2 separate regions of the Homo sapiens genome follow, and region 1 is linked to region 2. Evidence: fine-mapped expression QTL. A gene starts in region 2. The other region holds a variant in brackets. All regions are shown on one strand. Distances are between the middles of the regions.

Region 1 (4,377 bases), 98 kb after region 2:
GGATCTAGCCTTGAGCTTCTATTTACCTCCTCTTCTTGCAGCTCGAAACTTTGACCTGCAGAAATCCGAAGACATGCTCCGAAGGGTAAGGATCTGTGATCCCTACTGCCCTGCCTTCCATGCACTGTGACCCAGGGATTTGCTGCAAAAGGGTAGAGACTCTGGCCCTGTCCCATTCTCCTGTTTCTTCTTTCTTCCTCCCCCGATCTCTTTCTGCATCAGACCCAAGTCCCCCCAGCCCACCTCCTGTCCCCACGCTCTGAGAGCCTGGGTATGCTGTGGTGGGATCTTGGTGGCTGTGGGCAGAGGGACCTAGCCTGGTGTCCCCAGGTTCCTGCAAAATCCTATAGCTCCTGCTGTGTTCCTGCAGCACATGGAGTTCCGGAAGCAACAAGACCTGGACAACATTGTCACATGGCAGCCCCCTGAGGTGAGCCTCGAGCAGCATCCCCCAGGCCATCTGAGGCCCCTCACCCCTGACATCTCCCACCTACCACGTCCAGCCACCTGATGGAGTAGGGACCCAGCCTGGTGAGCTGGATTGAGTCGGGACCTTACCCACACTTCCAGGTCATCCAGCTGTATGACTCGGGTGGTCTTTGTGGCTACGACTACGAAGGCTGCCCTGTGTACTTCAACATCATTGGGTCCCTCGACCCCAAGGGTCTCCTGCTGTCAGCCTCCAAGCAGGATATGATCCGGAAGCGCATCAAAGTCTGTGAGCTGCTGTTGCATGAGTGTGAGCTGCAAACTCAGAAGGTGAGCAGCGGGGGTGGGGCTGGGCCTCATCTGTCTACAGGGTGGCACCAGGACCAGAGAAGGGTGGCACCCTGCCCCTCCCCAGCCCTCAGCACCCAGGGCTCTGGTGGAATGTGGGCTTCTCCCACCCTTACCCACCCGTAAAAGTGAGGTGTTGTCCATCTGTCTGGAAAACGCTGTGGGCTGCCAGAGGGTGGGATGGCAGGAAGGTGGGGAGAGGTGCCCAAGTCTCTCTGGCCAGGATCTCCTGGCTGGAGCTGTCGTCTGACCTATATGACTCTGTCCCAAGCAGCTGGGCAGGAAGATCGAGATGGCGCTGATGGTGTTTGACATGGAGGGGCTGAGCCTGAAACACCTGTGGAAGCCAGCTGTGGAGGTCTACCAGCAGGTAAGGTGGGTGGCTGGCTTGGGGCTGGTGTGGGCAGTGGCTCCCAGCTGTGAGCCCTAGCTGTGAATTGATGTGAGAATCCAGTGAGATAGAGGGGTGGGGATGCCTTGCAGGGGCTCCACAGACCAGCCAATGATGCTGGCCTAGAGACCACCCTCCACGGAGAAAGGGGAGCAAGATTAACACAAAGAGGCCAGGCGTGGTGGCTCACGCCTGTCATCCCAGCACTTTGGGAAGCCAAGGTGGGAAGATTCCTTGAGCAGGAGTTCAGGATCAGCCTGAGCAACACAGTGAGATGTCATCTCTACCAACAATAATAATAATTTTTACATTAGCCCAGTGCAGTGGCACGTGCCTGTAGTCCTAGATACTTGGGTGGCTGAGGCGGGAGGATCTCTTGAACCCAGGAATTCAAGGTCGCAGTGACCTGTGATTGTGCCACTATACTCCACCTTGGGAGACAGAGTGAGACCCTGTCTCGAGAACAAATCAACAAACAAAAAAAGAATAACAGAGAGGAAGAGGCACATGCTTGTGGGGAAGGTAGGATGGGCCAGGGATGGGCCTCTTGTCTCAGCAGCATCAGAGGCCACAGAAACCCATGGGCGGGAGGTGATGGAACAGAGCCCCAACCAGACTCATCTTGACTCCACAGTTTTTTAGCATCCTGGAAGCAAATTATCCTGAGACCCTGAAGAATTTAATTGTTATTCGAGGTAAGCCCATGACCGGGATGACCTCCTGGGGAGGGAGAAGCAGGAATTGGGGGTACAGTAGGTAAGCCATGGAGTTAAAGGCTTCTTCACCCATCCTTTGTGAAGAACCAGGTTTTGTGTGGTTGGTTTCTGGTTAGTTAGTTATTGAGATGGAGTCTCCCTCTGTCACCCAGGCCGGAGTGCAGTGGCATGATATTGGCTCACTGCAACCTCCGCCTCCTGGGTTCAAGCAATTCTCCTGCCTCAGCCTTCCTAGTAGCTGGGATTACAGGTGCACGCCACCATGCCTGGCTAATTTTTGTATTTTTAGTAGAGATGGGGTTTCCCTATGTTGGCCAGGCTGGTTTTGAACTCCTGATCTCAAGTCATCCAGCCACTTCGGCCTCCCACAGTGCTGGGATTATAGATGTGAGCCACCGCACCCGGCCTCTGGCTTTATTTTTTAGTTTCAGTCCTTCACAGACTGATATTTTTGTAATATACAAAATCA[T/C]GCACTGGTATGTTTCAGCAATGTCAAGTTATAAGTTTCTAAATGTTTACTGTTACTTACTTATGTCAGTGTGGGCTGGGAACAGATAGTCCATGGACCACACTAGTGGATGGACACACTTTGAGCGGGAATGGTCCCTGGCTGCCCTGGTGATGTCATGTGTTCCAGAGTCAGAGGATCTGGTTCAAATCTAACTAGCTCTATGATTTTATCCAAGTCTACTTAACCTCACTGAGCCTCAGTTTTCCCATTATGTAAGATGGGGATACAATAGCCCCCTCCTCAAAGATAACTATGAGGTTAAATGAAACAGTGTGTGGAGAAGATGGAGCACAGAGCTTGGCCCACAGACAGTGCTCAGTTGAGTGTGAGCAATTCAGGGCAGGACAGGAAGTCTCATGTAGATGTCACACCCAAGAAGATTCCAGACAACCTGGAGTGTGGAAAAGAAGTGATACTGTTGGGGAATCAATATTGCTGACCCTAGAGCCAGCTTGTGCCCAATCCCTTACAACTGGGTTGGGGAGACAGCCATTTTTCTTTTTCTTTTTTCTTTTCTTTTTTTTTTTTTTTTTTGAGATGGAATCTCACTCTCTCACCCAGGCTGGAGTGCAGTGGCGTGATCTTGGCTCACTGCAACCTCTGCCTCCCAGGTTCAAGCAATTCTTGTGCCGCTGCCACCCGAGTAGCCGGGATTACAAGCATGCACCACTACGCTCAGCTAATTTTTGTATTTTTAGTAGAGACGGAGTTTCACCATGTTGGCCAGGCTGGTCTTGAACTGCTGGCTTCAAGTGATCTGCCTACCTCAGCCTCCCAAAGTGCTGGGATTTCAGGCATGAGCCACTGCGCCTGGCCTGAGACAACCATTTATTGAAAGCCAGGAACTGTGCCAGGTGTTATACATACATTATTTCACCTTCATTTTCCAGTTAACTGCACTAAGACTTGGAGAGGGTGGGTAACTTGCTGAAGGTCACACAGCAGAGAGTGGCAGAATCCATATCTGTCCACCTCCTGTCCAGCACCTGCTCTTGGCTGTGGCTCTGTATCCCCACGTCCTTTCTGGTCCAGCTTCTCAAGAGATTTACATGTGTTTCAGCCCCAAAACTGTTCCCCGTGGCCTTCAACTTGGTCAAGTCGTTCATGAGTGAGGAGACACGCAGGAAGATTGTGATTCTGGGAGGTGAGCGACGTGGCCCCCTGGTTGTGTCCATCTGCCTGGGAAGCAGAGGTCAATGCTAAAGACCCTGCTTCTCCCTGGCTCGTCCTCTACTCGGGCACTACCCCTGGCCTGACCCTGGTGAGCCTCCACACGCACGGGCAATGCCTTGGGTCCTAGACCGTGGGCTGGGAGCCACATAAAGGTCTTGGGTACTCTTAGGAGTAGGTGCCCGGGGGAGCACGCCCAGGACATATCAGGTTCCCTCACCAAGCTCAGCCCCCTCTGCCCTCTGTTGAGTCTCCTGAGTCCCTTTGGAGTCCCTCTCTTGCTCCCATGCAGACAACTGGAAGCAGGAGCTGACAAAATTCATCAGCCCCGACCAGCTGCCTGTGGAGTTTGGGGGGACCATGACTGACCCCGATGGCAACCCCAAGTGCCTGACCAAGGTACAGGGTGCCCAGAGGATGGGGAAGGAGGGGAGAAGCTGTGATCTAGTGCCCACACACCCCCTTCACCCACAGATCAACTATGGGGGTGAGGTGCCCAAGAGCTACTACCTGTGCGAGCAGGTGAGGCTGCAGTATGAGCACACGAGGTCCGTGGGCCGCGGCTCCTCCCTGCAGGTGGAGAACGAGATCCTGTTCCCGGGCTGTGTGCTCAGGTAGGGATGGCAGCCACTCTACACCTGGGCACATCTGGGAGGGGCCTGGAGCCCAGGCAGGGGGTCGCCAATGGGGCTCTATCCACTGCAGGTGGCAGTTTGCTTCAGATGGTGGGGACATCGGCTTTGGGGTTTTCCTGAAGACCAAGATGGGGGAGCAGCAGAGTGCTAGGGAGATGACGGAGGTGCTGCCCAGCC
Region 2 (4,392 bases):
GCGTGTGTCACCATGCCCAGCAAATTTTTGTTTTAAATGAAACAATGTAAACATACTTAAAGCAACAACTACTTTATGCAGTTAGTGTTGACCCCATCTTACAAATGAGGAAGAGAGGTACCCTGAGGTAAAGTGGCTTGTCCGAGGCTTAGAGGTAAACCAGGTGTGTCTCCCTGCAGAGACTGGGCTTTTCACCGTAATGCTGATGGAGGCTTGGTATTGCACAAAGCATTCTGTGTGTGGGCAGCCCTAATGGTTAAAAACCTCTTCCCTTTATGGAACAAAAATCTACCTGGCATTATCCTGGAGTCACATAACATTCTTTCTACTATACGTTAGGTAGTGGAATGTGAGTTTAGCAGAGGACTCTGAAACCAGACTGCTTGGTGAGAATCTATTCTGCACAGCTTAGCAGCTGAGTGATCTTCAGCGATCACTTACTTTCCTGAGACTTAGTTTCCTCCCTTGTGAAATGTGGTACCTATATGACGGCTATTTTGAGCTGAAATTACAATTGCTTCCCTGAACATCCCCACCTGTGTCTTCCAGTGACCCCTCAACATTAATGTGAGCAAAACAAGGCTCAACTTTCTGCAAACATGGTTCTATCTGTGCAGGACGAGCTAGGTGATTTGTGAGGGACAGGGTGAGATGACTGCCCAGGCCACATGCTCACGACACCAGCCCTGTTCCTGTGTTGCCCTCATGAGCCAGCCACTGCCACCCTCTCCAGTCCATCCCTTTCCTTCTTCTTCTTTTTTTTTTTGAGATGGAGCCTCGCTCTGTCGTCTAGGCTTGAGTGCAGAGTGCAGTGGCACAATCTTGGCTCACTGCAACATCTACCTCCTGGGTTCAATAAATTCTCCTGCCTCAGCCTCCCAACTAGCTGGGGTTACAGGTGCCTGCCACCACACCCGGCTAATTTTTGTATTTTTGGTAGAGATGGGTTTTCGCCATGTTGGCCAGGCTGGTCTCAAACTCCTGATCTCAGGTGATCCGCCTGCCTCAGCCTCTCAAAGTGCTGGGATTACAGGTGTGAGCGACCGTGCCCGGCTTCATCTCATTTTTAACTGTGGAATTGCTGGGTTTTAAATTTTAGCTTTAAATTAGATAGTGCAAGTCACATAGTTCAAAACAAGTATTCACCAGTGCTTAACGTCTGTCTCTGTGTAAGTTCTAAGACCAAGTCCTTGGGCCAGGTCACATTCACAAGAGCCTCAAATTTAAACTTTTGAGATCATCTTCGAACGAAATTTGGAATTTGGAAAAAGGGAGAAACGTTTAAAAAAAAAAAAACCTCTTAAAATTGCATCTACTTCCAGACTGCACCATCTCAAGGTGATGTGACTATTTGTATAAATCTTGGAATTATTATTTGAGGAACACTTACAGAATTTATGTGTACAAATTAAAAGCTCGAATATGTTGAATGTACATTTAATTTTATTTATTTATTTATTTTTGAGATGGAGTCTCACTCTGTCGCCCAGGCTGGAGTGCAGTGGCAAGATCTCGGCTCACTGCAACCTCTGCCTCCCAGGTTCAAGCGATTCTCCTGCGTCAGCCTCCCGAGTAGCTGGGATTACAGGCGTGTGCCACCATGGCCAGCTAATTTTTGTATTTTTAGCAGAGACGGGGTTTCACTATATTGGTCACACTGGTCTCGAACTCCTGACCTCAGATGATCCGCCTGTCTTGGCCTCCCAAAGTGCTGGGATTACAGGCGTGCGCCACCGCTCCCAGCCTTGAATGTACATTTTAAATATACCACGAGTCCACCACTAAGGCTCAGAAAATATAAGTGGCCTCTAGGATCTCTATACCTCCGCGAGGAAAAATGTCTTCCTTTTTTCTATTTTAGCCGCATAACCGCGAATGAACCAAAGAGAACCCGAAGCCGGTGGGAACTCAGCGCAGTCTCACCCTGCCCCTCGGGAACCGCTTCTCAGCAGCGGCAGCCGAAGTCTGACGACGCTTAGCAACCGTTACCTTGACAACGCAATCCTATCGCGCACCATGGAGTGCGGCGCCCCTCTGCATCCCAGAAGGCACCGCGCTGTCCCTAAGCCTTCCGCCCCTCTCCGTCCCAACATGCAACGAGGCTCACAGTCAATGAATCGTCATCAGGGTGATTACAGAAAAGCCTGTATATCCACGTTTGTTTTAACACTTAAAGTGTTTGTAACCATTGTGAGCGGGAAAGATCTGGAAAGAGTGTTCTCAGTGATTTTTTTCAGACTATAGTTTTAAATCTTGAGGAGGAAATCCCCATCTTTCCCTGGACTTGTACAGGCATCTCATTGGGCAGCCCGCACAAACAGACAGCGTGGGGTGGGGAGGGTCCTCGGGGTCCTTGGCAGGGCACGTGCGGGAGGAAGTGGAGCTCCCTGTACGCGCGGCCCTAGTCGGCTCCTCAACGTGGAGCGATGGGAGGCCTTGAGAAGAAGAAGGTGATTGGGAAAGACGGTGGGGATTCCCGAGGGGTGGGGTGCGGGGGCGGCAGAGCATGGGGTCGACTCTTTTCCCGGGCTCCGTCTCGTGGAGACTGGAAAGACGGGATCGACGTGACCGTAATCAGCTGCGAGAAGGGGTCCGAGAATGGACAAGGATGGCAGTATTCGTTTAGTGAAATCCGAGAACGAACTCCAGAGTTCTTTCTGTGGAGAGGGCTGTGAAAGAGAGTTGAACTTACCAAGCGTAGCTTCATTCCAAAAGCAGGCCGAGCCGTGGGACCACTATTTACCGAAAGGGTGATAAACATTACGTAGAGCTCACCGTTACTGCACCGTTACATTAGTTGGTTAGTGTTGTCTTGGAAGTTCTCTTCGAGGCATAACATTTCGGCTGAAATGGGAAAGATCAGAACGTCTTGGATGGGTTCTGGGGCATGGGAGTGCTTAGCGAGCAGGCCTGACAAGGGAAACCAAGTGCCAAGATCAGTAGGCAGGGAAGGCTTGCTGTGTGTAAGGAGTTGGAAGGACATTAGGATGACTCGCATGTAAACCAAGAAAAGAATGGCATCTGATAAGATTGGGGTTGGACACGTACTGTATCGTGCAAGGCCTGTAAGCTTGGATTTTATTCTAAGTGCAGTAGGAATAGTGTAGAGCTTGGATTTTATTCTACGTGCAGTAGGAAAAAAAGGAGGAGTAACACGATTAGAGTTTTTCAGGGAGTTCTTGTGGCTGTATGGAGAATCGGCCCAGTGACATGAAAAGACTGGGAAGGGAATGGGAATGAGGAATATATAGTTGGCTTAAGTGTTTCTTTCAGAGTGAAAGTTTCTATTGCCAGTGTTCTTAACCCAACACACTACATTGAGTATCCAGTGCTAGCCATCGGAACTGCAAAGATACAAGATGGAAAACCTGCCCTTGAGTTGCAGATGTAGATATGTAACAAAATCGTTACAGTTTTTAAAAGCTGGGTTTCAGAGCCAGAATCAACAAAGATGAGTCTTTGTTGTGGGAAGGATTGTCTTGTGTGTAGTAGGATATTTGGCAACATCCCTGATCCTTTACCTACTGGATACCAGTAGCACCCAGCAACCAAAAATGTCTCCAAACATTGCTGAACTCTCCTCCCCCCAGCACATACCCAGGGAGTACCCCATTGAGAACTATTTATTCCCTTAACATTTATAAGGATAAGCATGGTGACAGAGATAAGTGTGGCATAAGGTAATGGAAAACGCTATAAATGAAAACTCAACTTCTTAAGGCAGTCTGAAACTCATCTTTATACCTCCAAGACTTAGCATGGGCCTAATACCTAATAGACAATTAATGTCTAAAGGAAAGAATGAATGAAGGGTATGTTTCATGACTATGATGTTATTAGTAAACGTACCTGTGGGAGACTAACAGGTTTGTCTCTTTAGAGCTGAACCTAGCCAAAGAGGCCCCTGCTGTCTTAGTCCAGAGGAAGATCTTGTTTGGAAACGACATGCTTGTTAGCTTGCAGGGTATTTGTTACAGTGCACTGATTGTCTCTATCGAGGGATACAGAAGTGTGAGGGATACAGAAATGTGGGTGTGAGGCAGCATCTTAGCACCACAGGCATCCAGATGGTTATACAAGACAATAGGCTTCTTAGGGGCAGGTAGAGACCAGGCTTTTTGTCTTTATTGCCTTCATAGCATCTAGCTTAGTGCTTTGACCATAATAGAGGACCTGTTATTGTCTGTTGAATGAATGAATGAGGAAGGGGAGAAGCTGTGTGGCTTAGAGCATGCTTTTTCAGCCAGGGTAATACCACCCTCAAGGGAACAAAATTGGTTGAGGGGCAGTATCTTAGCTATTACAATGGTTGTGGCTCCCCAAGGACTACATTACATAAACAGACCTACAGTATATCTCTGGTATTAACATTTTATGGGGCATAGGGAAGAA

Direction of the effects. Positions count from the first base shown, and alleles are read on the strand shown. Sizes are in standard deviations (SD) of each study's normalised expression.
With allele C in place of T in region 1, the expression in tibial nerve of the gene that starts at base 2,350 in region 2 is higher (moderate effect, 0.42 SD a copy in GTEx).

Evidence for each region. PIP is the estimated chance that this variant, and not a neighbour inherited with it, causes the effect.
Region 1: its variant is fine-mapped to the expression of PES1 in tibial nerve (GTEx, PIP 0.97). The same link has a PIP of 0.9 or more in visceral fat.

What each region holds. Positions count from the first base shown.
Region 1 is chr22:30,491,636-30,496,012 of GRCh38, reverse strand. SEC14L4 (SEC14 like lipid binding 4) reads left to right here. Exons shown (of 12, transcript NM_174977.4): 3 at 42-85; 4 at 371-430; 5 at 571-759; 6 at 1,052-1,147; 7 at 1,803-1,863; 8 at 3,456-3,539; 9 at 3,858-3,964; 10 at 4,040-4,179; 11 at 4,271-4,377. Among named protein-coding and RNA genes, the nearest start is that of SEC14L4, 12 kb to the left of the region's middle. The variant T/C (reference allele first, on the strand shown) is at 2,354.
Region 2 is chr22:30,589,868-30,594,259 of GRCh38, reverse strand. It overlaps PES1 (pescadillo ribosomal biogenesis factor 1), which reads left to right and starts at 2,350. Exons shown (of 15, transcript NM_014303.4): 1 at 2,350-2,450. The coding sequence starts at 2,427. RefSeq lists enhancers at 1,728-1,807, 2,028-2,327, 1,807-2,522.